7 linked regions of the Homo sapiens genome follow. The protein of the gene in region 1 purifies or fractionates together with the protein of each later gene. This does not show direct contact. Each region holds a gene or a part of one and is shown in the gene's direction. Other genes may lie near its edges.

What was found.
Region 2: the proteins of DEF6 (region 1) and ANKS1A purify together in Homo sapiens (affinity purification with mass spectrometry; 3 studies listed by BioGRID and IntAct, with this or other methods). This does not show direct contact.
Region 3: the proteins of DEF6 (region 1) and CHAMP1 purify together in Homo sapiens (affinity purification with mass spectrometry; 3 studies listed by BioGRID and IntAct, with this or other methods). This does not show direct contact.
Region 4: the proteins of DEF6 (region 1) and PRKCQ purify together in Homo sapiens (affinity purification with mass spectrometry; 3 studies listed by BioGRID and IntAct, with this or other methods). This does not show direct contact.
Region 5: the proteins of DEF6 (region 1) and RBM45 purify together in Homo sapiens (affinity purification with mass spectrometry; 3 studies listed by BioGRID and IntAct, with this or other methods). This does not show direct contact.
Region 6: the proteins of DEF6 (region 1) and ADD2 purify together in Homo sapiens (affinity purification with mass spectrometry; 3 studies listed by BioGRID and IntAct, with this or other methods). This does not show direct contact.
Region 7: the proteins of DEF6 (region 1) and TNRC6C purify together in Homo sapiens (affinity purification with mass spectrometry; 2 studies listed by BioGRID and IntAct, with this or other methods). This does not show direct contact.

Annotation. Positions count from the first base shown.
Region 1 is NC_000006.12:35,304,318-35,307,817, forward strand, and holds part of DEF6 (differentially expressed in FDCP 6 homolog), read left to right. Parts: intron 1-3,500.
Region 2 is NC_000006.12:34,888,059-34,892,054, forward strand, and holds the start of ANKS1A (ankyrin repeat and SAM domain-containing protein 1A), read left to right. Parts: upstream 1-1,196; 5' UTR 1,197-1,344; coding exon 1,345-1,541; intron 1,542-3,996. UniProt on the Homo sapiens protein: Regulator of different signaling pathways. Regulates EPHA8 receptor tyrosine kinase signaling to control cell migration and neurite retraction.
Region 3 is NC_000013.11:114,324,503-114,327,822, forward strand, and holds the end of CHAMP1 (chromosome alignment-maintaining phosphoprotein 1), read left to right. Parts: coding exon 1-1,779; 3' UTR 1,780-2,820; downstream 2,821-3,320. UniProt on the Homo sapiens protein: Required for proper alignment of chromosomes at metaphase and their accurate segregation during mitosis. Involved in the maintenance of spindle microtubules attachment to the kinetochore during sister chromatid biorientation.
Region 4 is NC_000010.11:6,573,777-6,577,276, reverse strand, and holds part of PRKCQ (protein kinase C theta type), read left to right. Parts: intron 1-3,500. UniProt on the Homo sapiens protein: Calcium-independent, phospholipid- and diacylglycerol (DAG)-dependent serine/threonine-protein kinase that mediates non-redundant functions in T-cell receptor (TCR) signaling, including T-cells activation, proliferation, differentiation and survival, by mediating activation of multiple transcription factors such as NF-kappa-B, JUN, NFATC1 and NFATC2.
Region 5 is NC_000002.12:178,122,437-178,125,936, forward strand, and holds part of RBM45 (RNA-binding protein 45), read left to right. Parts: intron 1-1,085; coding exon 1,086-1,215; intron 1,216-1,391; coding exon 1,392-1,476; intron 1,477-1,690; coding exon 1,691-1,854; intron 1,855-3,500. UniProt on the Homo sapiens protein: RNA-binding protein with binding specificity for poly(C). May play an important role in neural development.
Region 6 is NC_000002.12:70,677,701-70,681,200, reverse strand, and holds part of ADD2 (beta-adducin), read left to right. Parts: intron 1-498; exon of another isoform or gene 499-1,728; intron 1,729-2,239; coding exon 2,240-2,497; intron 2,498-3,018; exon of another isoform or gene 3,019-3,184; intron 3,185-3,323; coding exon 3,324-3,443; intron 3,444-3,500. UniProt on the Homo sapiens protein: Membrane-cytoskeleton-associated protein that promotes the assembly of the spectrin-actin network. Binds to the erythrocyte membrane receptor SLC2A1/GLUT1 and may therefore provide a link between the spectrin cytoskeleton to the plasma membrane.
Region 7 is NC_000017.11:78,049,203-78,052,702, forward strand, and holds part of TNRC6C (trinucleotide repeat-containing gene 6C protein), read left to right. Parts: coding exon 1-2,246; coding exon of another isoform or gene 2,247-2,255; intron 2,256-3,500. UniProt on the Homo sapiens protein: Plays a role in RNA-mediated gene silencing by micro-RNAs (miRNAs). Required for miRNA-dependent translational repression of complementary mRNAs by argonaute family proteins.

The DNA of each region.
Region 1 (3,500 bases):
CTCAAAAGATAAGGTGATCAGAGGATATTCCACCTGGTCAGGGAATATATATTCCCTGAGAAGGTGTCATCTAAGTAAAAACAGGGAGGAGGAAAGGGTTTGAGCCATGCAGTGACCTGGAGAGAAATATTCCAGGCTGCAGGAACAGTAAGTGCAAAGGCCCTTGGGCAAGAATATGCCTGACCTGCTGGAGGAACATTAAGAAGGCAGAATGGCTGGAGGCAAGTAAACAAGAGGGATGAGGTCAGAGAAGGTGCAGCAGGCCAGGTCACATGGGGCCTGGAGGCCTGTGGAAGGACTCGAACTTTTACTCTGAAAATTATGGGAAACCATTGGAGCATTTGAGTTAGACTTTAGGAGTCAGTCAGAAACATTCAGTGAATGGGGGACATTATACTATCTTTGGAGTCAAGGTTGAGATTAGAGTCATTGCTGCCCTCAAGGAATGTAGAACACCCAGAAATGCTCACACAAACAGTGAACAGCAAAAGAATATTATTATAGAGCAACTTAATAGGGCAAATTAATAACTGGGTTAATGGCACCCTTTTTCATCCCTATTGTTTTAAATTTTATCCTAAAGACAATATATTCTCCTGGTTTAAAAAAAGAAAACACACAGAAGAATATAATGTTAATGAAGAAATTCGGGGCTGCGCTGTGGTAGCTCATACTTGTAATCCCAACACTTTAGGAGGCCGAGGCAGGAGGATCTCTTGAGCCCAGGAGGGCTCTTCCTGCCTCGGCCTCCTAAAGCATTGGGATTACAGGTATGAGCCACCATGGCCTGGGCAATATAATGGGAACTCATCTCTATGAAAAAAAAGAATTTTTTTTTTTTTTTTCCAGACAGGGTCTGGATCTGTCACTCAGGCTGGAGTTCAGTGGCACGATCTCAGCTCACTGCAGCCTTGACTTCCTGGGCTCAAGCAATTCTCCCACCTCAGCCTCCTGAGTAGCTGGGACTACAGGAGTGTGCCGCCACACCCGGCTAATTTTGGTATTACAAAAAAATTTTTTAACTTAGCTGAGCATGGTGACACATGCCTGTAGTCCCAATTACTCGGGAGGTTGAAGTGGGAGGATCGCTTGAGCCTGGGAGGCGGAAGCTGCAGTGAGCAGAAATCGTGACACTGCACCCCAGCTTAGGCAACAGAGTGAGACCCCGTCTCTAAATAAATAAACAAAAATAAAAATGAATTTATTATAAAATTAAAACATGTTAGTGGTAATTTTTTTTTTGTGGGGGTGTGTGTGTGTATGTGTGTGTGTGACAGAGTCTCACTCTGCCACCCAGGCTGGAGTGCAGTGGCACTATCCTTCCTGGCTCACCTCAACCGCCACCTCCCAGGTTCAAGCAATTCTCCTGCCTCAGCCTCCCTGTAACTGGGATTACAGCCGCCTGCCATCACACCCAGCTAATTTTTGTATTTTTAGTAGAGATGAGGTTTCGCCATGCTGGCCAGGCTGGTGTTGAACTCCTGACCTCAAGTGATCCGCCCACCTGGGCCTCCCAAAGTGCTGGGATTACAGGTGTGAACCACTGCGCCTGGCCAAATTTGTTTTTTTGTTTTTGTTTTTGTTTTAATTTTTAGATGGAGTTTCACTCTTGTTGCCCAGGCTGGGGTGCAATGGCACAATCTCGGCTCACTGCAACCTCTGCCTCCTGGGTTCAACTGATTCTCCTGCCTCAGCCTCCCAAGTAGCTGGGATTATAGGCGCCTGCCACAATGCCTGGCTAATTTTTAGTATTTTTAGTAGAGACAGGGTTTCAACATGTTGGTCAGGTGGGTCTCGAACTCCTGACCTCAGGTGATCCACCTGCCTCGGCCTCCCAAAGTGCTGGGATTACAGGCGTGAGCCCCTGCACCCGGCCCAAAAAAATTTTGAAGTAAAGAAGAATATAATGTTGGCCGGGCGCGGTGGCTCATGCCTGTAACCCCAGCACTTTGGGAGGCCGAGGCGGGCGGAACACCTGAGGTCAGGAGTTTGAGACCAGCCTGGTCAACATGGCAAAACCCCGTCTCTACTAAAAATACAAAAATTAGCCAGGCATGGTGGCGGGCGCCTGTAATCTCAGCTCTTCGGGAAGCCGAGGAAGGAGAAGCACCTGAACCCGAGAGGCAGAGGTTGCGGTGAGCCGAGATCACGCCATTGCACTCCAGCCTGGGCAACAAGAGTGAAATTCTGTCTTAAAAAAAAAAAAAAGATGAAAGTTTCTCCCCTCACTCTGGAGAGGTGATCACTGTTAACAGTTTGTGAGTCTTCTAGATTCTTTCTGTATACAAATAAACAGGTTGAACCATATGAAATTTCTGACACTTGATTGTTTTGACCTACTGAAATACTAGTTTCATATAATTCGACCTAATCTTTGCACATGTATTTGACAAACATTTCATTCTGTAGCTTGCTTTTTTTACATGCCAGTGTAGTATGCATATCTTTCAATGTCTGTTCATATAAACATAACAAAGATCACCCACAACTTTTATTAAGCAGTGCACTATGCACCAGGTACTCTTCACTCAAAACAGCCTTTGGAGCAGACCCTATCATTATCCTCACAGAGGAGGAGACTAAGGTGTTGGAGAATTAAACATTTGCCCATGAGCACACAAGTGGGAAAAGTGAAATCTTTCCAGCTACATACAGTGGTTCCTGACATGGTATACCTGTTTCCTACTGGAAGAGCCTCAGTTTGTCTCCATTTTTTCATATTATAAACAATGCTTAATGAGCATTCTTGTATCTCTCCCATGAGTGTCTGTAGGTTGGATGATTAGAAATGCTGGGGTGGCCGGGCGCAGTGGCTCACGCCCTGTAATCCCAGCATTTTGGGAGGCCGAGGCGGGCAGATCTCCTGAGGTCAGGAGTTTGAGACCAGCCTGGCCAACATAGCGAAATTCCATCTCTACTAAAAATACAAAAATTAGCCGAGCATAGTGGCACGCGTCAGCAATCCCAGCTACTCAGGAGGCTGAGGCAGGAGAATCACGTGAACCTGGGAGGCGGAGGTTGCAGTGAGCCAACACCGCGCCACTGCGCTCTAGCCTGGGCGGCAGATTTGGAACGCGTCTCAAAAAAAGATAAGGACACGGGTAGTTTGAAAAGAGGCCAAGAGACAGCAGATGAGAATATATAAAACTTGAACACTTGTCACTTCAGAAGTGGTCAGTGGATGTTGGCATTATTCTCTTGAGGTGGTCACCCTGGGTTTTAAGTGCTAGGCATTGAGCCAGTGGCACCCCTTAGAGTGGGGATTGGTATTCTATGACCACAGATGTGTTAGGCAAGACTTTCCTGGAATTAGTGATAAAACCAAACTCAAATGGCTTAAGGGAGAGGGGATTTATTGGCTCACATAACCAAAAACTCCAGGGATAACTGCCCAGAGGGAAATGAGGGAAAAAAAGGAAATACTCCCTTCCTGGGATCTCCCACTTCCCAGTTTGCCAAGGAAAACTGAGCCCCAGGAGGACACTGAGGCAAAGTCTCAA
Region 2 (3,996 bases), 420 kb from region 1:
CAGCGATGACATCACCCCTACCGCTCTCCTGAGGGGTCATTTTGAGGCGCGCGTAGAGGACTAGAGGACTCATTTTAACTTTGGTTTGGCGACAGTGGGAAGCGGGAAAATTGGACGTAAAGAGCTCAGACTATGGATCCTCCTCGCTAGGAAACCAGCACTTGTGAAGGAGCGCAGTTTTGTTTACTAAATAACTTTTTCCTTTTCGCCTGTCTAAAAATGCAATGTCAGTTAATCCCTTCGTTAACCCCTCAGAGTAAAGTTGGGGGACTGGGAGAAAACTCAGTTCCGTTGTATGGCGGTGTCGTGGAATGAGGCTCCCCGGGACTGGTAAACTTTCAGGCAAGGACTCAACCTTGTATATTTCAACTGGCCCGAAACCGCGGGCCTGTGTGTACATAGAATTGCTAGCATTTCCCCTCCATTCCGCAAGCACCTTAACAACAAAAAGTCATATAGCTCGAGCAGAATTTATCCAATTCATTTATTCATCCACAACTATTGACTGCCTACTTCGATTTAGAAACAGTGCTAGTACCAGGGAACAAAACACACATAGTTTCTACCCAATTAAATGATTTTTTTCAGTTCGCCAGTACTGAAGATTGAGGTTTGTTTTTACAAGTCTGACACTTTTCTATCAGTTTGGTTAATCTCATTAAAACTAAGAGGAAAGCCTAAAGAGAGGAAGGTGTCTCCTTTGAACGTTTCACTTTAATGAACTAGTTCACGTACTGGGAGGATGAAGTGGTGAGGATATTTCTGTTTTAAAATTTTCTTCTCTTCCCTCATTGAGATACGAGGGGGAGGGCGTTTTATTCACCTGGGTATGACTAGGTCCCCGCACCTATTACATATTTAATTTATGCGTGCTGAAAGAATGGACTTGGAAATGTAGGTGCGCGTTACATTTATCTCTTTGTTTCTACGCTGCCTGGACGAATTACCGTATTTCCTGTCCCAGGAGCTCCCAAAACCTTTGGGGAAGGAGCGCACTTCGGGAGGCGCGTACAGGTGGGCCTGTTTGTCCCTTTCCACCTGCATAATGGGGGCCCACAAGGCGCTGTCCCCATGCCCCGAGAGGCGTGTCTCGGCACAGCAAAGTCCACCTGCGCTGGTCCGCGGAGCCCCGCCCAGCTAGGTGAGCTAGGGGGCGGGGCGCGGGGGCGCGGTGACGCGTGACGCCGGATCCCGGAAGTGACGCGCTCGTGGGGAAAAGGCAGGGAGGGGGTGGTGTCCCCAGCCGGTTTGGGGGGTGCGTTGCCCGGAGACGGAAAGTTTGGGAGCCCGAGCAGGCTCGGCTGCAGCCTCGGGGAGGGGGTCCAGCGGGTGGCGGCCCTGGGGATGGGGAAGGAGCAGGAGCTGCTGGAGGCGGCCCGCACCGGGCACCTCCCGGCGGTGGAGAAGCTGCTGTCCGGGAAGCGGCTCTCCTCAGGCTTTGGGGGCGGCGGCGGCGGTGGCTCTGGGGGCGGCGGCGGCGGCAGCGGCGGCGGCGGCGGCGGCCTCGGCTCTTCCAGCCACCCCCTCTCCAGTCTGCTCAGGTGGGTACGCGCCAGGGCCGGGCCGCTGCCTGCAGACCCTTTCTCCCCCACCCGTCTCTTGGGTCCCCAGAGAGATCGGGGGTCCTGAGACTCGGGCGGGGTGGGCTTGTGGCGTGCCCGGGGCGAGGCAGGCGGCCCGCGGGCCAGGGTACCGGAGGGCGCGCAGGTCCGAGTCCACGCTGCTCCGGGCTCGCCTGGTCTCCCGTTCTGACCCGGCTGCGAAGAATGGTGGGAGTGCCCAGGTGGCAGCCTCCGCCGCATGGCACAGCCAGGGTTCACTCTCGCTCGCTACAGGGTGCCAGCTATCGTAGCTCACAAAAGCCAATTAAGAGCAAATATGTATATCTTATATATATATATATGAGATCTCCCTCACCTCCTGCAGAAACTCCTACGCCTTGTAGAATCTCGAGGCTCCTCTGGAGGAAATTCTATTGATTTTCTTCTCTGAGGAACTTGGAACCTTCCACCAGGCTACACAGGACCTCGCTTTATTTTTTTTTTTCCCTCGAGACGGAGACTTGTTCTGTCAGCCAGGCTGGAGTGCAGTGGCGCGATCTCGGCTCACTGCAACCTCCGCCTCCCGGGTTCAAGCGATTCTCCTGCCTCTGCCTCCCAAGTAGCTGGGATTACAGGCGCCCGCCACGACACCAGGCTAATTTTTGTATTTTTAGTAGAGACGGGGTTTCACCATATTGGCCAGGCTGGTCTCGAACTCTTGACCTCAGGAACCGCCCGCCTCGGCTTCCCAAAGTGCTGGGATTACAGGCGTGAGCCACCGCGCCTGGCCCCTCGCTTTTGTTTTATTAAAATTGCCTCTGGATGTATCATTTTCAAGATGTTCGTCTTTGAGCCTCTCTTGTGCTTGAAGTTCAAATTGTAGTTCCTTGTAGTGAACCTCATTGGATTAGTCTAAGTGGCATATGCAGGATTCATCCAGGGGCTTATTCATCTAGAAATAAAGGCAGAGAGACTTGTTTAGGAAACCGAAGGATGCTGTAAACTTTTCCAAGGTCTGTTGTTAAACGCTTCAATCTGGAGCTGTAAGGACCGAGGGAAAAACATCAGTTTTGTGTGGCTTCGAAGGGGGATTGGGGGTGCTTTGTTAGTGTGAGTTAAATGTGTTAGTTCAGCAGCGCTTTCATAGCCTGATTTCTTTTTCCTTCCTTGTTCTTTTGAGGTTTTTAAGAAGTGGAAGTTCATTTAGAAATGCCTTCGTTAGCTTTTGTTCCCCATTACTTTATGTAACTTCAGTTTGAGTGAGCTTGGACCATATAAGCCTAAGGCGCTAATAAATTGTTATTAATAGATATTAAGCACTGAGTACCAACCCAGGTCTTTACAGGAAGATTTTAAAAAGCAATATAAGTAGGTACTTAAGATTTGTTGAAGAAATAAAAGTATCAGTTGCAGGACAATAAATTTCTAAATAAATGGATGGTGGATGGTATTACTCGCTGTAATTGCTAGCAGCTCAGAGAACAGAGACATCATTTAGGGATGGAGTGGAAGTCAGGGCTTCCAAAAGGAGGGAGACTTAAGCTGGCCTTGAAGGATGTGAGGATTTGGGTAGGTGAGTTATGATGGGCATGTTTCAGGTGGGTACCCCATGATCAGAGGCACAGAAATGAGAATGGAGACTTATTTGGTGCTCCTTAGGCAACAGGAGAAGAACTTCCTGCCTGCACCCTTGAGAGGTTGGGCATAATAAAGGTAAATAATAATGGATGGGTATACTTCCATATATCATGTTTATATTCTCAGTCCCTAGATCAGTGCCTGACAACTTACAGGTGTTTAATAAATGTACAGTGAATGCATGAATTGGGTTTTGAATCTTACCTGGATTTGCCACTCTGCAGTTCTGATGTCTGAGAGGTGACAAGACTGTACAGGTTTGGAGATGCCTCTGTCTTTAATGAGTTGATGACATAGCATTTGGAGATTTTCCAGAGATATCTTAACCCTCAGCATATCCTGCTAAAGTGAGAAGTTTCTCATATCTCCCACCCTCAAACACAGGTCAAATTATTCTTTTTTTTTTTTGGAGACGGAGTCTCGCTCTGTCCACAGTCTGGAGTGCAGTGGCAGTATCTCAGCTCACTGCAACCTTCGCCTTCCTGGGTTCAAGCGATTCTCCTGCCTCAGCCTCCCAAGTAGCTGGGACTACAGGCAAGCGCCACCACACCCAGCTAATTTTTGTATTTTTTGTAGAGATGGAGTTTCACCATGTTAGCCAGGCTGTTCTCAATTTCTTGACCTCATGATCCGCCGGCCTCGGCCTCCCAAAGTGCTGGGATTACAGGCGTGAGCCACCTTGCCCGGCCTCAGGTCAAGTTATTCTTAGTGCGCTCACTCGGAGACTATTGAAATTCTGCTGAGGATTTAACTGCCATATAGTTAATATAGTTAAGCAAGACTAGGAAACCTGTTGAGCACAATGCTTCTACTTTGG
Region 3 (3,320 bases), on another chromosome or scaffold:
ACTCTTAGTAATCCCAAACCCCAGAAGCAGTCTCATTTCCCGGAAACATTGGGGCCACCTTCAGCCTCATCTCCAGAGTCACCAGTTCTAGCTGCTTCCCCAGAACCTTGGGGACCATCCCCAGCTGCATCTCCAGAATCTCGGAAGTCAGCCCGGACTACCTCCCCTGAGCCAAGGAAGCCATCCCCTTCAGAGTCTCCTGAACCTTGGAAGCCGTTCCCTGCTGTCTCCCCAGAGCCTAGGAGACCAGCCCCCGCTGTGTCACCAGGCTCTTGGAAACCAGGGCCACCTGGGTCCCCTAGGCCTTGGAAATCCAATCCTTCAGCATCATCAGGACCTTGGAAGCCAGCTAAACCTGCTCCATCTGTGTCTCCTGGACCTTGGAAACCAATTCCTTCTGTATCTCCTGGACCTTGGAAACCAACTCCATCTGTGTCTTCTGCATCCTGGAAATCTTCATCAGTCTCACCCAGCTCCTGGAAGTCTCCCCCTGCATCTCCTGAGTCATGGAAGTCTGGCCCACCAGAACTCCGAAAGACAGCTCCCACGTTGTCTCCTGAACATTGGAAGGCAGTTCCCCCAGTGTCTCCAGAGCTTCGCAAACCCGGCCCACCACTATCCCCAGAGATCCGTAGTCCAGCAGGATCTCCAGAGCTCAGAAAACCCTCAGGGTCACCAGATCTTTGGAAGCTTTCTCCTGATCAGCGGAAAACTTCTCCTGCTTCACTTGATTTCCCTGAGTCCCAGAAAAGTTCCCGTGGTGGTTCTCCTGATCTCTGGAAGTCTTCCTTTTTTATTGAGCCTCAGAAACCTGTCTTCCCTGAGACCCGAAAACCAGGTCCTTCTGGGCCATCTGAGTCCCCCAAAGCAGCCTCAGATATCTGGAAGCCTGTTCTCTCTATCGATACTGAGCCTAGAAAACCTGCCCTGTTTCCCGAGCCTGCCAAAACAGCCCCTCCTGCTTCTCCAGAAGCACGCAAACGTGCCCTTTTTCCAGAGCCCCGGAAGCATGCCCTTTTCCCTGAACTCCCCAAATCTGCTCTATTCTCAGAATCACAGAAGGCTGTTGAGCTTGGTGATGAACTACAAATAGATGCCATAGATGATCAAAAATGTGATATTTTGGTTCAGGAAGAACTTCTAGCTTCACCTAAGAAACTCTTAGAAGATACTTTATTTCCTTCCTCAAAGAAGCTCAAGAAAGACAACCAAGAGAGCTCAGACGCTGAGCTTAGTAGTAGTGAGTACATAAAAACAGATTTGGATGCGATGGATATTAAGGGCCAGGAATCAAGCAGTGATCAAGAGCAGGTTGATGTGGAATCCATTGATTTTAGCAAAGAGAACAAAATGGACATGACTAGTCCAGAGCAGTCTAGAAATGTGCTACAGTTTACTGAAGAAAAAGAAGCTTTTATCTCTGAAGAGGAGATTGCAAAATACATGAAGCGTGGAAAAGGAAAGTATTATTGCAAAATTTGTTGCTGTCGTGCTATGAAAAAAGGTGCTGTTTTGCATCATTTGGTTAATAAGCATAATGTTCATAGCCCTTACAAATGCACAATCTGTGGAAAGGCTTTTCTTTTGGAATCTCTCCTTAAAAATCATGTAGCAGCCCATGGGCAAAGTTTACTTAAATGTCCACGTTGTAATTTTGAATCAAATTTCCCAAGAGGTTTTAAGAAACATTTAACTCATTGTCAAAGCCGGCATAATGAAGAGGCAAATAAAAAGCTAATGGAAGCTCTTGAACCGCCACTGGAGGAGCAGCAAATTTGATAACACAGTGTGAATATTTGTTCTACAAAGGTGTTTGTTGGAACCATTCTTTGTAAGTATAGCTTATCAGATAGCATAGTTGGATCAGTAGATGACATGTATGGTGTACCGTGTTTCACTGTCTCAGTTGTGTTACTAAGAATGAGCATTTGATCATTTTTTTCTGGTCTCTGTCTATGTGACTATCTTGTAAGTCAATAAATTTCTGTATAGTCCAGATGGATTAAACTTCTCATTTCTTTTAAATATGTATGAATAATAATACAAGGAAGTAGGCATTCCATTTAATAATCAAGAGCAAGTTGTACTCAAAGCATTCAGTTAAAGTGTATCTGTGTGTGGAACTAATTTCAGACAATAGAAAATATTAGTTGAAATGTTTAAGAATTAGGCATGAAAAATAAATTTGAGAAATTTTGTTTCCTTACATGTATTTTTAAATCATAAGAGTTATTTTCTATCTGATGTAAAATTAGTTTATAAATCTTAATCAGCTTCTAGATGTTTATTAGCTTTTATGTCATGAAATGTTGGAGTCTCAGGGTTGCTGATTTTCTGCTAATGGGAAAAATTGACTAAGTCTTTAAAATAGTTTGCAGCCTTCTCCCACAGGAGACAAGTGAAAGATAAGTGTGATTTTAGATCTTTCTTGTCCATAGTTGTTTTCAGTGGAGTCTTCCATTCTGTATCTTACCCTAAGATCTGGTTCTTCCCTCCCCATCCCCACCCCCCACCCACCGCCTGCCAGCTCACACTAATAGATGATTCTTAATTGCCAAATGTGTTAGAGTTTGTATATCCTACTCCTGGGCCTTACATGTCGCCTGTTGGGGCTTAAGACCAGGTTGATAAGTAGGAACTGAAAGTCTTCCAGATTCACAGTAGAAAATTTTATAGACATTTCTGTTAAAGAAATATATCGATTTTATGTTTTTCAATTATGTTACTGTAAATACCTTGTACCTGTTCATGGATTATTTTATTCTAAAATATTTTGTCAAATGTGTATCAACCAAATTAAAAAGAAAGGTTTTCATGTCAGCAACATCTTCATGTGTGTTTTCTTTTGTGTAGTTTTCATTGTATGATATACAGATCCATTATTTCCATGTTTTCAACATAGTTTTCTTATCTGGAGCAGCATTTTCTTAGCTGTGTTTTCTCCAAGTTCTGTGGTCAAGTAAGTTAGGGGAATGCGTGTATAGGGAGGACTCTGTGTCAAAAACCTCATCCTTTCATATGAAAGGTTTTTTAATTCCAGTGGTTGCCTATCCTGCCTGCCTCTAAACAGTGTGAGGCATTTAATCTCAAAGCATTCTGATGTGTAGCCAGGATTGAGATGCTGTACTGGGTTTATTTTAGCTATTCCCAGACATTTTTTTAACAAGGAACAGTTTTGTCCTAGTTCCCCACCCGCTGGCTTCCCTATTAATATGCCCGTTGGGATAGCTTAACAATATTTAGTAATATGGTTTGGCTCTGTGTCCACACTCAAATCTCTCTCTTTTTATTTTTGTTTTTTATTTTGAGACCGATCCTTG
Region 4 (3,500 bases), on another chromosome or scaffold:
GCATTTATACATGTCAAATTCTGATTGCTCTGTCATCTAAACACATTCTTGGGGACAAAATGAGCATCAGAGTTTTAAAATTAGGAAAGCTCACTCAAGCCCAGAATCATAGATTTTTGCTCCTGGATTAAATTAGCAAGTATTTGGCAGGACATCTTTCTGCAGGTTGCTGTAGGTTGATGTTAGCTTTTGAATTAAGCTAATAGTATTAATTATAATAATAATAATCAGCATCAACAAAACCAATGAAATATGGTTTTGAGTCTTTATTATTTAGAATTTATGTGCTGTATATCATACTCAGAATTTTATTTATATGTAAGAGGCATTACTGCTTCATTTAACCTCCAAAAGCCTTTATAAATTAGATATTATTATTATTCCAGTTTTTCAGATGAGGAAACTGAGGCTCAAGGGGTAGAGCCCCTTGTCCAGGTCTTATAACCAGTCAGTGGTAGAGTCAGGTTAGTTGGACCATCCAGATTAGTCTAACCATCAAGCATTTGCTTTAAACCGCAGTCCCAGGTGACCTACCAGTTAACTTTTTTATTGTGGTTAAAATACACATAACTTAAAATTTAACTTCTTAACTATTTTCTAGCGTACAGTTCAGTGACATTAAGTATATTCACATTGTTTTGCAACCATTGCCATCATCCATCCACAGGATTCTTCTCATCTCCTAAAACTGAAACTCTGTCCTCGTGGAACATTCGTTCCTCATCCGTCTTTCCTCTCAGCCCCTGGCAGCCACCCTTCTACTTCCTGTCTCTAAGATTCTGACTGCTCTAGGGACCTCACAGAAGCAGAATACAGTATCCATCCTTTTGTAACTGTCTTATTTCACTTAGCATAGTGTTCTCAAGCTGTATCCATGTGACAGCATTGGACAGGACTTCCTTCCTTTTTAAGTCTGAATACTATTCCATTTATGGATATACCACATTTTGCTTATCCTTGTATCTGTTGATGGTTGCTTCTATCTTTTGATTATTGTGAATAATGCTGCCGTGAAGAGGAACACGCAGATATCTGTTTGAGGTCCTGCTTTCAATTCTTTGGGGTATGTACCCAGCAGTAGAATTGTGGGGTCGTAGGGTAATTCTATGTTTAATTTTTTGAGGAACTGCCATATTGTTTTCCACAGTGGCTGGACCGTTTTACATTCCCACCAGTGGTAGAAAGGGTCCCAATTATTCCACATTCTCAGCAACGCTGTCTTTTGTTTTGTGTTTTTTGAGATGGAGTCTCGCTGTGTCGCCAGGCTGGAGTGCAGTGGCATGATCTCAGCTCACTGCAACCTCTACCTCCCAGGTTCAAGCAATTCTCCTGCCTCAGCCTCCTGAGTAGCTGGGACTATAGGCACGCGCTGCCACACCCAGCTAACTTTTGTATTTTTAGTAGAGATGGGGTTTCACCATGTTGGCCAAGATGGTCTCGATCTCTTGACCTCATGATCCACCCACCTTGGCCTCCCAAAGTGCTGAGATTACAGGCGTGAGCCACCGCACCTGGGCTTTTTTAAAAATCTTCTTTATAGTAGCCTTTCTAATTGGTGTAAGGTGCTGATAGTTAACTTTTTACCCAATCATTGAATGCCCAATGGCAGGGATCTCTGGGCTGATGCTACTCCTGAGTTCATTGTTTATTTCCTATCCCAGCTTGAGCATATACACCTTTTTCTAGTGTAGAATTAATGGAGGAAATACAACTCACACAGCACCTGAGGGACTAGGGAAGCCATGGAAAGGACAGTCCCTAAAACATAAACAGAATGTCCCGGTAGGTAGGGTTATCTCCACCTCCATGAGGAACCTTATGATTCAGAAATGAGTAGTTGTTGAGAATAAAGTGAACATGGCATCAGTGTTAATAACCCTGAATGTGTGGGACAGATGCTTTTTAGAAGATTAGTTACAGATATAATTATCTTTTGTATGTTATCAGAGCAGGACAAGTTCCCAGGACAATGGAGAGAATGGAAAGGGAAACTGCTATTGAATTCACCAGGCCTTTGTTGCAAGCCTCAGATCACACACCGTGCTGCAAAACCCACAGGGAGATGTGGTCAGGCAAATAGGAAATTATAATGAATTGTGATGAATTCATGAGATATTTGTACTATTTTGTATCAGTTTATAATGTCATGCAACTCTGTTTTATATTTGCTAGTTTCCTTTCTGTCTCTTTTTTCCTCTAGCATGAAACTCCATGAGGGCTGGCATTTTGTCCCTACATGTGTCCCCAGCCACTCTAACAGGGCCTGACACATACCAAGTTGTGAACAAATATGTGCAGAATGATTGTGTGTTTCAGTAGGGGACACACTTGGTATTATGTGCACAGCTAGATTTGGGGTGTCGCAGAGCTGTCAGTGACGGCTCAACTGAGACCTGAAGGGGAAGTGGCAGTGAGCCAGATGGGGGTTCTGGGAGGTAGGAACAGTGTTTGTAGAATGTCCCTGCAGCATGTGAGTCTGGAATCCCAGTGCAGTCCAGTCTAAGCCTTGCAGATGAGTGGAAATGAGCAGAGTAAGCATCACAGCTTCCATTTAAACCTCTGCTCCCCATCCTAATTTGCCATATGACCTTAACCAGTGAACTTCTTGGAGTGTCATTCTCTCCATTTGCAAAGTGAAGAAAATTGTGATCTCTGATAGCAGTGATGCTGCGAGAAAGGAGCATGTGCCAGTGTGTGGGCTATTGCTGGGTGGAGCTGGAGGAGTCAGCTGTGCCAGATCACATAGGACCTGTAAGCAGGTGAACCATATACGTTATCCTCCAGATGGGGACTGTTTATAGAGTGAAAGAGCACGTTATTAATCACTAAGCTTGGGTAACAGGTACAAACCCAGATTGTCCTGGGCAGACTGTCCCGTAGAGTTGTCCTGCGTTAAGTCATACGAAGGAGTTTGATCCTTTTCTAAGAACAGGAGGAACCCTTTAAATGCTTTATCTACCAATGTATACAAGTGCCATTCAGGTTCTCTCCAGCGTTTCAGAGAGTTTTACCTGCCCATGAACTCACAGCACTCGGCTTGCACTGCAAACTCACCTATACGTTGGCAGCTGTCTCCTCACTGGGCACTTAATTCATGAACAACTAGGAGGGAAAGACAACAAGACAGCCAGGGGTCTGCTCTTTGGCTCTTTGCATTTTTTTTTACGGGGTCTTGCTCTGTCGCCCAGGCTGGAGTGCAGTGGCACGATCTCAGCTCACAGCAGCCTCCGCCTCTGAGGCTCAAGGGATCCTCCGGCCTCAGCCTCCTGAGTAGCTGGGACTACAGTTGCATGCCACCATGGCCTGGCTAGTTTGTGCACTTTGTAGAGATGGTGTTTTGTCATGTTGCCCAGGCTAGTCTCTAACTCCTGGGCTCAAGTGATCTGCCCGCCTTGGCCTCCCAGAGTGCTGAGATTAAAGACATGAGCCACCACACCTGGCCTAGCTCTTTTCGCCTTTAACTGGAGTGTTAGCTGATATCAAGAACACATCTTTTGGGT
Region 5 (3,500 bases), on another chromosome or scaffold:
AGTACCCAACCCAGCACTAGTCTTTTTGTAGAACTGTCTTTGAGCCATCCCCAGTCTTAACCCGATCATATGCGTCATTCTCTGTTCTAAGACTTCTAGGCACACATTTTTGTGTTCTCTGGCACATTTGTTATATGCATATGAAGTTGTGTTCATTTTGTTTTGTTCCCTCCCTTTTATCTGGTATGTCAAAATGTATTTGTTCCTGTACCTCCTGTTTTGTTTCTCTGGTTGGATGTGTCTGAAATATATGTGTCATTGGAACATCTTTTTATTAATAGAGGTGTCATCATATAGTTCGAATCTCATTTGAATTAACTTTATATGGTCATTTGATTTCTGTGTTTTATTTTAATTTCATTAAAATGTTGGATGCTTGGGTTTCCAGATGAACATAAATTATAAGTGTTTCCCCAGTGGTTTGTATTATAAAAGTGAAAACCTTTTAGTTGTGTCACAAACTCCTGGGCTCTCTAAGGAATGCATTATAACATTGTCCCTCCCTTCAACATCACCCTCCTAAATTGAAATTCGTCCCTTTGGCAGAAATCTCTCCAAAGGAAAGTAAAATATATCACTTGTGATCTGAGATCCTCTGTTCCCTATCTTTTTGTTTTTCATTCAAATCACTTTTCCTCTCCCTACTGCTGCAGATAGCCGGGATGAGTATATATTCTTTTCAACTATCACTTCTCATTTCATTTCCTACCCAGTATGGTTGGGAAAATCTTAAAATTTCAAAGTAGATTTCAAAGAATAAAAATTTAGACTTTTAAGTATATTGGTATCATATAAGAAAAGCTAGTATCCTAAAACTAAACTTATTAGACAGGACGTATGTTAATATTCCATTTTCCCTAAAATATCATGTTCATATTTTTCCCTAAATTATTTCTTCCTTTTCTAGGAATACACCTGTTGCACACATGATAACAGAACTGTGTTTTCTGATACATTCGATTCTGTATTTACTAGTTGTGTGATATTAGAGTTCTACATGGTTTCATTTTTGTGATAGATTGTAACATAGGCCTTAGGCACTCAGTCTGCTTTCCTTTTTCATTTCTGTATGTTCTCTATTTTAGGTCATGGAGTGGTTCAGTATTTTAATGTAGCATCAGCTATTTATGCAAAATACAAATTACATGGATTTCAGTACCCTCCTGGGAACCGAATAGGTGTTTCCTTCATTGATGATGGAAGTAATGCAACAGAGTAAGTACCATTCCAGGAGTGTCTAAAGCCGAGCTTTGAGTGTACATGATTGATAGGACTTGAAGAATAAAAATAGAAACAATTGACCTCTCAGGTGAGAAAGTCACACAAAACAAGCTACTGTTAAAAGACTGAATATTTTTAGTTTTCTGTAAATTATCAGTTATTTTTTCCAGTCTCCTTAGAAAAATGGCAACACAGATGGTAGCTGCACAGCTTGCATCAATGGTGTGGAATAACCCAAGTCAGCAACAATTTATGGTAAGTAGGTAAGAATTTAACCTTTATAATATATCAATAGCATATAAAATAAATGTGAAGAGAAATCATGCTTTGTTGATTATCTGTGTATGAAAATTTTCAGAGCTATTGTGGAAGACCACATAGATGCCATGATACATATCTGTCTTTAGCTCTTGGCCAAAAATCCCTAAAGGGCATTTTTTTCTTTTTCTTGTTTTCTACCTGTTAACAGCAATTTGGAGGAAGCTCTGGATCACAGTTGCCTCAAATCCAGACAGATGTTGTACTTCCATCATGCAAAAAAAAAGCTCCTGCTGAAACTCCTGTGAAAGAAAGACTTTTTATTGTGTTTAATCCTCATCCTTTACCTTTAGACGTATTAGAAGATATATTCTGGTAAGAAAGTTACATTTTTTGTTATATTTTATTTACACTAGTAATTTAATTATTCTTATAATCTAGACACTTCCTTCACCCAGTACCTATCAAGTAGAGAGTATTAGTTCTCTGCTTTTAAAACCTCCTTATTTGTATCATCTTTTTCAATTTCTGATTATTTTCTTCTCTTGTTTATCAGTCACACATCCTAAGGCTCCATAGAGAATTTCCTGCTATTTTGTTTTTGAAACATAAAGTGGGCCTGGTGCAGTGGCTCATGCCTGTAATCCCAACACTTTGGGAGGCCGAGGTCAGGGGATCGCTTGAGCTCAGGAGTTCAAGACCAGACTGGGCAATATGGCAAAACCCCATCTCTACAAAAAATACAAGAATTAGCCAGGCATGGTGGTACATGCCTGTGGTCGCAGATACTTGGGAGGCTAAGGTGGCAGGATTGCTTTTGCCCAGGAGGTCGAGGTTGCAGTGAGCCAAGATTGTGCTACTGTACTCCAGCCTGGGTGACAGAGTGAGACCCTTTTTGTTTTTTGTGTTTTTTTTGCTAAGCATCTTCTGTTTTGTTGGTGCATTGTAGGATCCTTAAGGGTTATGCAGTCGCATTGTGTAAACAATTACTTGATTGTAGGGAAAAATACATAAATGTTTTTTATAATAAAAAAGGGAAGGTTCTTATTTATTTTTGTGTTTTTAACATAACTCCTTTCTTTGCTTTTTCTTTTAGGCCTTTTTCCCATTTGCCTTACAAGAATGTTAGTGAATTTGATAGACAGGAAGCTTGTTAAAGAGCTGCACAAAATATCAGGGACATAATGTGATAGTATATTGAGGCTCAAAAGGAAAAAAATATCAGGATATGGTTCAAGTATTTTGACCTTTATTTAACTGATATATTTAGTTTTCTTCTTGAACCTCCTCTTTGTTCAAGGCAGGAACTGTGCTAAGTACAAGAGACATGTAAACAAAATATTAAATGGACAAGACATTATGATTCTTGTCCTCTTAGAGCTGATCTCATGTAGGAAACAGACAAGTAAACAGAAAATTACAACCCAGGGTGATTGTTGCTGTGATAAGGAATGTGTAAGATACAAAGGAGGAGCAGTTACCTTAGAAACTCTGAGAAGCCTTGAAAGAAGGAAGGTGTATGTGGAGACCTGAAGTATAAAAATAATTTCTCCACAGGTGAAAGCTGGGGGTATGCATGGTTATTTCTGCCATAGAGAATGTAAAAGAAGGGCTGTTAAATAGGGAATTTGAGAGATTGTTAAGGAAGATGAAACTAAAGAGTCCAAGGACAATGTCAGAACGGCTCTAGAGCTATATTAAGGAATTTGTTGTCACCATGGAGGCAATGGGGAGCTGCTGAGGGGACTTTTAGGGAGTAAATGATCATATTTATGTTTTAGAAAGATCACTCAGAAGACAGAGTGAAAAATGGATTGAAGAGGGACAAGCTCAGGGGTAAGGAAACTAGTGAAAAAGGAGTTAGATTAAGGAAAAGATGATGGTCTGAATGAGAAGAGAGATCTGAATGAGAATGAATAGAATTGACTGAGATGTTTAAGATTGACATGAGTTGGATGTTGGATCTGGGGAGAAGGGTGAAAATGGAGTCAAGAATGGACTCCAAATTTTAGACCTGAGCA
Region 6 (3,500 bases), on another chromosome or scaffold:
GAAAGCCTGAAAAGATACCTCCAAAGGCCAATTTTAGGTTCTATAATAGTGATATTATTTACAGGAGTAATTGGGGAAGTTGCAAATCGTGTGACCTCTGGAATAATAGCTGGTAATTATTTAACTATGCCTACATTTTAGTAAAATTCAGGCCCCTTTCCTCTTCCTAACTTGGTGGTCTTTCATCAGTTTTACAAGGATAGTTTAGTTTTTGGGAAGGGCTATCGTCATTTACACTATAAACTAAATTTCTCCTGAAGTTAGTTTGGCTCACATCCAGGAATGAGCAAAGCCAGCCAGCTTGTGAGGCTAGAAGCAAGATAGAGTACTGTCATAATTTTGCAAAGGTGATTTCAGTTTAAGGTGGACAATTATGCAAATATATACAAAAATCAGTAGTTTTTGTATCTTAACTACTTTGAAAATATAATAATGGGAGAAAATAATCCTATTTGCAAATGGATCACAATCATAAAACACTAAAAAGCATAATCCGTGTTTTTAAAACCATAAAACTTTATTAATAGACATCAGAGAAAACCTGAAGTCAGTGAAGAGCTATAATTTATTCTTGGTTAGAAAGCTTCAATAGGGTAAAGAGGTTACTTCCCCAAAATTAATCAATAAAGTCAATGGATTTCTTTCAAAAATGGGGGAAGGTATGAGGACTTGACAAAATATCCTTCCATGTGAAATTCAGAATGGCTAGGGCAATGTTATAAAAAGAAAAGTAATTAGGAATACTAATTCCACCTCATGACAAAGTGTGATAAAACTTTGGCAACTAAATGGCGTGGCACTAGCAGAATGGATGTGCAAAACAATGCAACAGCTTAGAGAATCCAGAAATAGATCCAAAATATATGAGAATTTAACACAGGAAAAGCAGGCACTTTATAAATCAGTGAGGGAAAGATAGACTACTTGCCATCTGGGAAGGAAAGCTAAGGCAGATGCTACTTCATTTATTTCAACAAGATAAATTCCTGGTTTGTCAAAATGGTAAACATAAAAAGTGAACTCATAGGGGTATTAAAAAACATAGACTTATGTTTTTGATGCCCTTGTGTTAGGGAAGACTTATCAAGCACGGCACAAAAGGCTGCAATCTTGACAAATATTAATAGATATGATATTAAACAATTCAAAACTTGCATTTCTATAAGCCACTCCCCCACCATAAACAAGGTAAAAGACAAAGTATGGAGGGAAATATTTTCACCATCTATGATAGTGAAAAAATTAATATTCTTAATTTACAAAGAGCTTACAAATCAATGTGAAAAACAGAAACATCAATAGAAAAATGGGCTGAGAACATAAACAATTTACAAAGGAAAATAGTTAAGTAGCCATTATATGTAATTGGAAATATCCATTTTACTAGTATCAAACATATATGGACACACATGTATATGCATAGAGATATGACTGGAAAGGTTTTTAGTGATTGTCTCTGGGGTGAGAGTTTGCATAAAATTCCGTTTTTTCCTTATTTTTTTTAATTTTGCTTAATTTTTCTACATGGATCTGTATTTCCTTTATAATCAGAAAAATAATGTCATTTTAATTTAAAAATAAAAGAAGACAAAGAGAGCTGAATATTGCTCCAACAGCTGCCAAGATTCCAGAATGTTTGTTCTCTCCAAGAAGCAGTCAGCTCCAGCTTTGAGGGGATGTGGCCTTGCTTAGGAGACAGGAATGTTCTTGAGTCTGATTTCAGGGTTCCTAGAAGGAAATTGTTAAGAAGTTTCACAGTCAAGGAAGGGAGGGGTGACTGTTAAATCAGCTGGGAAGCTTTTAAAGATCCTGTAGCCCAGGCCACACTGTGATCTGATTAAATGGGCAACTCTGCATCAGGGCCCAGGCATCAGTGTTTGTGTGAAGCTCCCCCCGTGATTCTAGTGTACAGCCAGGGCTGGGAGCCACTGGACCAGAGGAAATCTGTGGCTCCATTTGGATGAGGAGCTCTGTCTATCTGGTCCACAAAGGTCTAGGGATTTTCTCAGCCCTGATCAGAGGACTTGTTGGGGTAGAGAAAGAGAGGGGATGGGGGACCAGGAGGAGGGAACAGTTCTGAAATATACCAGAAGAGTGGAAAGCCTAGATTGTTTAATGGAGATTTGGGTTTACATGAAGAGTCCTTTAAGCAGACGGAAGGAAAGGTGTGTGTGCATGTATGTGCAGGTACAGGCCTTTTTTCTCACCCCATAAGTGGTTCTATTTTTGTCCTTTATAGGGCTACAGAACAGGTTACACGTATCGCCACCCCTTTGTTCAAGAGAAAACCAAACACAAAAGTGAGGTGGAGATTCCAGCCACGGTCACAGCCTTCGTGTTTGAGGAGGACGGTGCCCCGGTGCCCGCCCTGCGACAGCATGCCCAGAAGCAGCAGAAGGAGAAGACCCGCTGGCTCAATACGCCCAACACCTACCTGCGGGTCAATGTGGCCGATGAGGTCCAGAGGAGCATGGGCAGCCCCCGACCCAAGACCACGGTAAGGGGGAGCCCAGGACAGACCCGGGCAGAGAGGGGCAGGCTGCATTAGCAGGGTGAAGCATTTTTAAAACGGGAACAGAACAAACCTCTCCTGCCCCAGGTTAGTAGCATCCTCTTTGGGCTTCCTATTAGGCCTCTGGGAGCAGCTGCTCAGGCCCACTGAGCCCCTGACCACTTCTTCCTTGCACCTCTGCCTGAGTTTTTGGGTCTAAGGAGCAGATTTCTCCAGAGGGCAGTTGGACCAGGCACATGACCCAGAACCAGTTGGTTTGTGCTTCTTTCTCCCACATCCACAGGGGGCTCTTGGGAAATTCAAGGGAGGAGCATTTAACATTGGGACTTCAGATCTGATGCAAGCCCAGGAGGTGGGCTGTACAGCCACTTCTATGAAGTTATATTTTCTCTCCCTGTCCCCACCCACAGGCTCTCAATTTTTTATTAACATAAAAGTAGCCAACAGCCAAATAGAATAGCTCTTCATAAAACAATATGAAGCTCTCCAAACTCAAATCAAGTTACCTAATACTGAAGCCCAAGTGGTTGCCTGTGTATCAAAGCTGGTTCCCAAGGTTCTGACCCCAACTCTTGGATGTTCTTTATAGCCGACCTTTGGCCTGAGGGCCTTCATTGGTAACTGGGTCATCTGTTGCCATTCTCTGCTCCTGGAGACAGACATCAAAGAGGCCTAAGAAGAGAGAGTGTCTATGAGTAGGCTTGCTGACCTTCCATGCAGGATGTTGGGCCCAGATCTCGTGGGTGGACCACTGGGGAGGACTCATGGGCCTGTTCCCTCACCTCAGCCCCATGACCTTGTGTTTGTGCAGTGGATGAAGGCTGACGAGGTGGAGAAATCCAGCAGTGGCATGCCGATTCGCATCGAAAACCCAAACCAATTTGTGCCTCTCTATACTGACCCCCAGGAAGTACTGGAGATGAGGAACAAGGTAAGTGGGGTCTGTTTATCCCACTCTTTCTTCTCCCACACTGGGGGGTCTCAGGTC
Region 7 (3,500 bases), on another chromosome or scaffold:
TGCGGCCAGAGTGTGGGGTGTAGCCACAGGCTCCAGCTCTGGCCTGGCTCACTGCTCTGTCAGTGGTGGGGATGGAAAAATGGACACTATGATTGGAGATGGGAGAAGTCAGAATTGCTGGGGTGCTTCCAACTCCAATGCTGGCATTAATCTTAACCTTAATCCTAATGCCAACCCAGCTGCCTGGCCTGTACTTGGACATGAAGGAACCGTGGCGACAGGCAACCCTTCCAGTATTTGCAGTCCAGTCAGTGCCATAGGTCAAAATATGGGCAACCAGAACGGGAACCCAACAGGCACTTTAGGTGCTTGGGGAAACTTGCTGCCACAAGAGAGCACAGAACCACAAACGTCCACTTCTCAGAATGTGTCTTTCAGCGCACAACCTCAGAACCTTAACACTGATGGACCAAATAACACTAACCCCATGAACTCTTCACCCAACCCTATCAATGCAATGCAGACAAATGGACTGCCAAACTGGGGCATGGCTGTTGGTATGGGGGCCATCATCCCGCCCCACCTGCAAGGCCTTCCTGGTGCTAATGGATCATCAGTTTCTCAAGTCAGTGGGGGCAGTGCTGAAGGAATAAGCAATTCTGTGTGGGGACTGTCCCCAGGTAACCCTGCCACAGGAAATAGCAATTCTGGGTTCAGTCAGGGGAATGGAGACACTGTGAACTCAGCATTAAGTGCTAAACAAAATGGATCCAGCAGTGCTGTGCAAAAGGAAGGAAGTGGAGGAAATGCTTGGGATTCAGGACCTCCTGCTGGTCCTGGAATACTCGCCTGGGGAAGGGGCAGTGGCAACAATGGCGTTGGTAATATCCATTCAGGAGCTTGGGGCCACCCCAGCCGAAGCACCTCTAACGGTGTGAATGGGGAATGGGGAAAGCCCCCAAACCAGCATTCCAACAGTGACATCAATGGGAAAGGATCAACAGGGTGGGAGAGTCCTAGTGTCACCAGCCAGAACCCTACCGTACAGCCTGGTGGTGAACACATGAACTCCTGGGCCAAAGCGGCATCTTCTGGAACTACAGCAAGTGAAGGAAGTAGTGATGGTTCTGGCAACCACAATGAAGGAAGCACTGGGAGGGAAGGAACGGGAGAAGGCCGAAGGCGAGATAAAGGGATTATAGACCAAGGGCACATCCAGTTGCCAAGGAATGATCTTGACCCAAGAGTTCTGTCTAATACTGGTTGGGGACAGACTCCTGTAAAGCAAAACACTGCCTGGGAATTTGAAGAATCCCCTAGGTCTGAAAGGAAAAATGACAATGGGACAGAGGCCTGGGGTTGTGCAGCTACTCAGGCTTCAAACTCAGGGGGGAAGAACGATGGGTCCATCATGAACAGTACAAATACCTCTTCAGTATCTGGGTGGGTCAACGCGCCACCTGCCGCTGTGCCAGCAAACACAGGTTGGGGAGACAGCAACAACAAAGCGCCAAGTGGCCCGGGGGTTTGGGGGGACTCGATAAGCTCTACTGCTGTTAGTACTGCTGCTGCTGCCAAGAGTGGCCATGCTTGGAGTGGGGCCGCAAATCAGGAGGACAAGTCACCCACCTGGGGTGAGCCTCCAAAGCCCAAATCCCAACACTGGGGAGATGGACAAAGATCAAATCCAGCCTGGAGTGCAGGAGGGGGAGATTGGGCAGATTCATCGTCTGTCCTTGGACACTTGGGGGATGGGAAAAAAAATGGATCTGGATGGGATGCTGACAGTAATAGGTCAGGGTCTGGTTGGAATGACACCACGAGATCTGGGAACAGTGGCTGGGGCAACAGCACAAATACAAAGGCCAATCCAGGTACAAACTGGGGGGAGACTTTAAAACCTGGCCCCCAACAGAACTGGGCTAGCAAACCCCAAGACAACAATGTGAGTAACTGGGGAGGAGCTGCTTCTGTGAAACAGACAGGAACAGGGTGGATCGGGGGGCCGGTACCGGTCAAACAGAAGGACAGCAGTGAAGCAACTGGCTGGGAAGAACCCTCTCCACCGTCCATTCGCCGCAAAATGGAAATTGATGATGGTACCTCAGCTTGGGGGGACCCAAGCAACTATAACAATAAAACTGTAAACATGTGGGATAGAAACAACCCGGTCATCCAGAGCAGTACCACGACCAATACCACCACCACCACCACCACTACCACGAGCAACACCACACACAGGGTCGAGACGCCGCCCCCGCACCAGGCCGGTACTCAGCTGAATCGATCACCGTTGCTTGGTCCAGGTAGGAAAGGTATTTCATGTTTCTTTACAAGTAAAAAAAAAAAAAAAAAAGCTTATTCTCATTATATATTCATGAATACTCCGAGTAGTGTTTTTTATAGCAAATAGCATTAAAATAATTTAAGTTCCCTATCACCGTGCAATATTGTATCTAAAGATTATCCAGTGAGAGCAAAGTAGGATCCTCTGGTGGTTTTCTATTCAAGAAAAAAATATATTAAGCACACTCAGTAGAACATCAAGCGAATGTTTTGGTGGTGGCGGTGGTGGCCTGGGGTGGAGATGATGGATTTGAAAGCAATGACAGTGCATGATTCCAAGATTTCGTAACCATTTGGATACAGGAGCAAAGAAGATAGGATAGACATGGTTCAGAACTTGGGCAAGTTGGCAGATGACTGTGTCAGTTCACTGACATGCCCATGAGCACAGCAGGAGGCACAGAGCTCCAAGTGTCCAGTGAGGACAATAAAAGGTCCCAGATACGGAAGACCAGTTCTCAGCCAGAGGGGCAAGGTCCAGAGTAGAGAGATTTTAAGGTGGCAAAGTCGTGAGCATGTTTCAGAGCTGTTAGAAAGGAACAAGTGGAGATGAGAATGAATGAAGAGGGAAGAGATCCCTGTGTCCAGCAGGACAAGGGCACTTCATCCATCTCGTGAAGCAAGGAGCAGGAAAGAGCGCTGCACAGGTGGGCCAGGCTGTCATGGCCAGAGGGCCAAGGCCACCTTCTGGGGTTCTTTTCTCTCTGGGAGTGTGAATACTAGCCCAGAGTGGAGGAGGGCTGGCTAGGAGCAGCAGCACGAGTAGAGAGGGAGCATGCATTAGCCCATGTAGAGGACAGGAACAGAGAACTGACTTGACTGGGGCCCCTGGAGGGTTGCTGGGCAATGTCAGGGCCCAGAGATCACCATACACAGTGAATTTATTGGGACCTGCCATGTACTAGGCTGTACTCTAGTAGCTGGGGAAACTGCAGGAAGCAAAACAGTCAAAACCCTGCCATGGAGGGGTCTAGATCTAGTGAGGGTGGCAAACAACACACGAATTAAAGTATATACGTAGTGTTGGGCAGTGATGGTGCAGGGAGGAAACAGTAAGCCCAGAAGGTCTGCATGCGGGGGCCACTGGAGTTGGGGAATCACCATCTTGTGTAGGGCAGCCTGGGCATTTGGGCACCTTTTTGGTTTTTGTCATAAGCGTTCAACAGGAGAATGTCCTGCCTGCTGCATTAATTCAATTATGACTGCCCTACAGG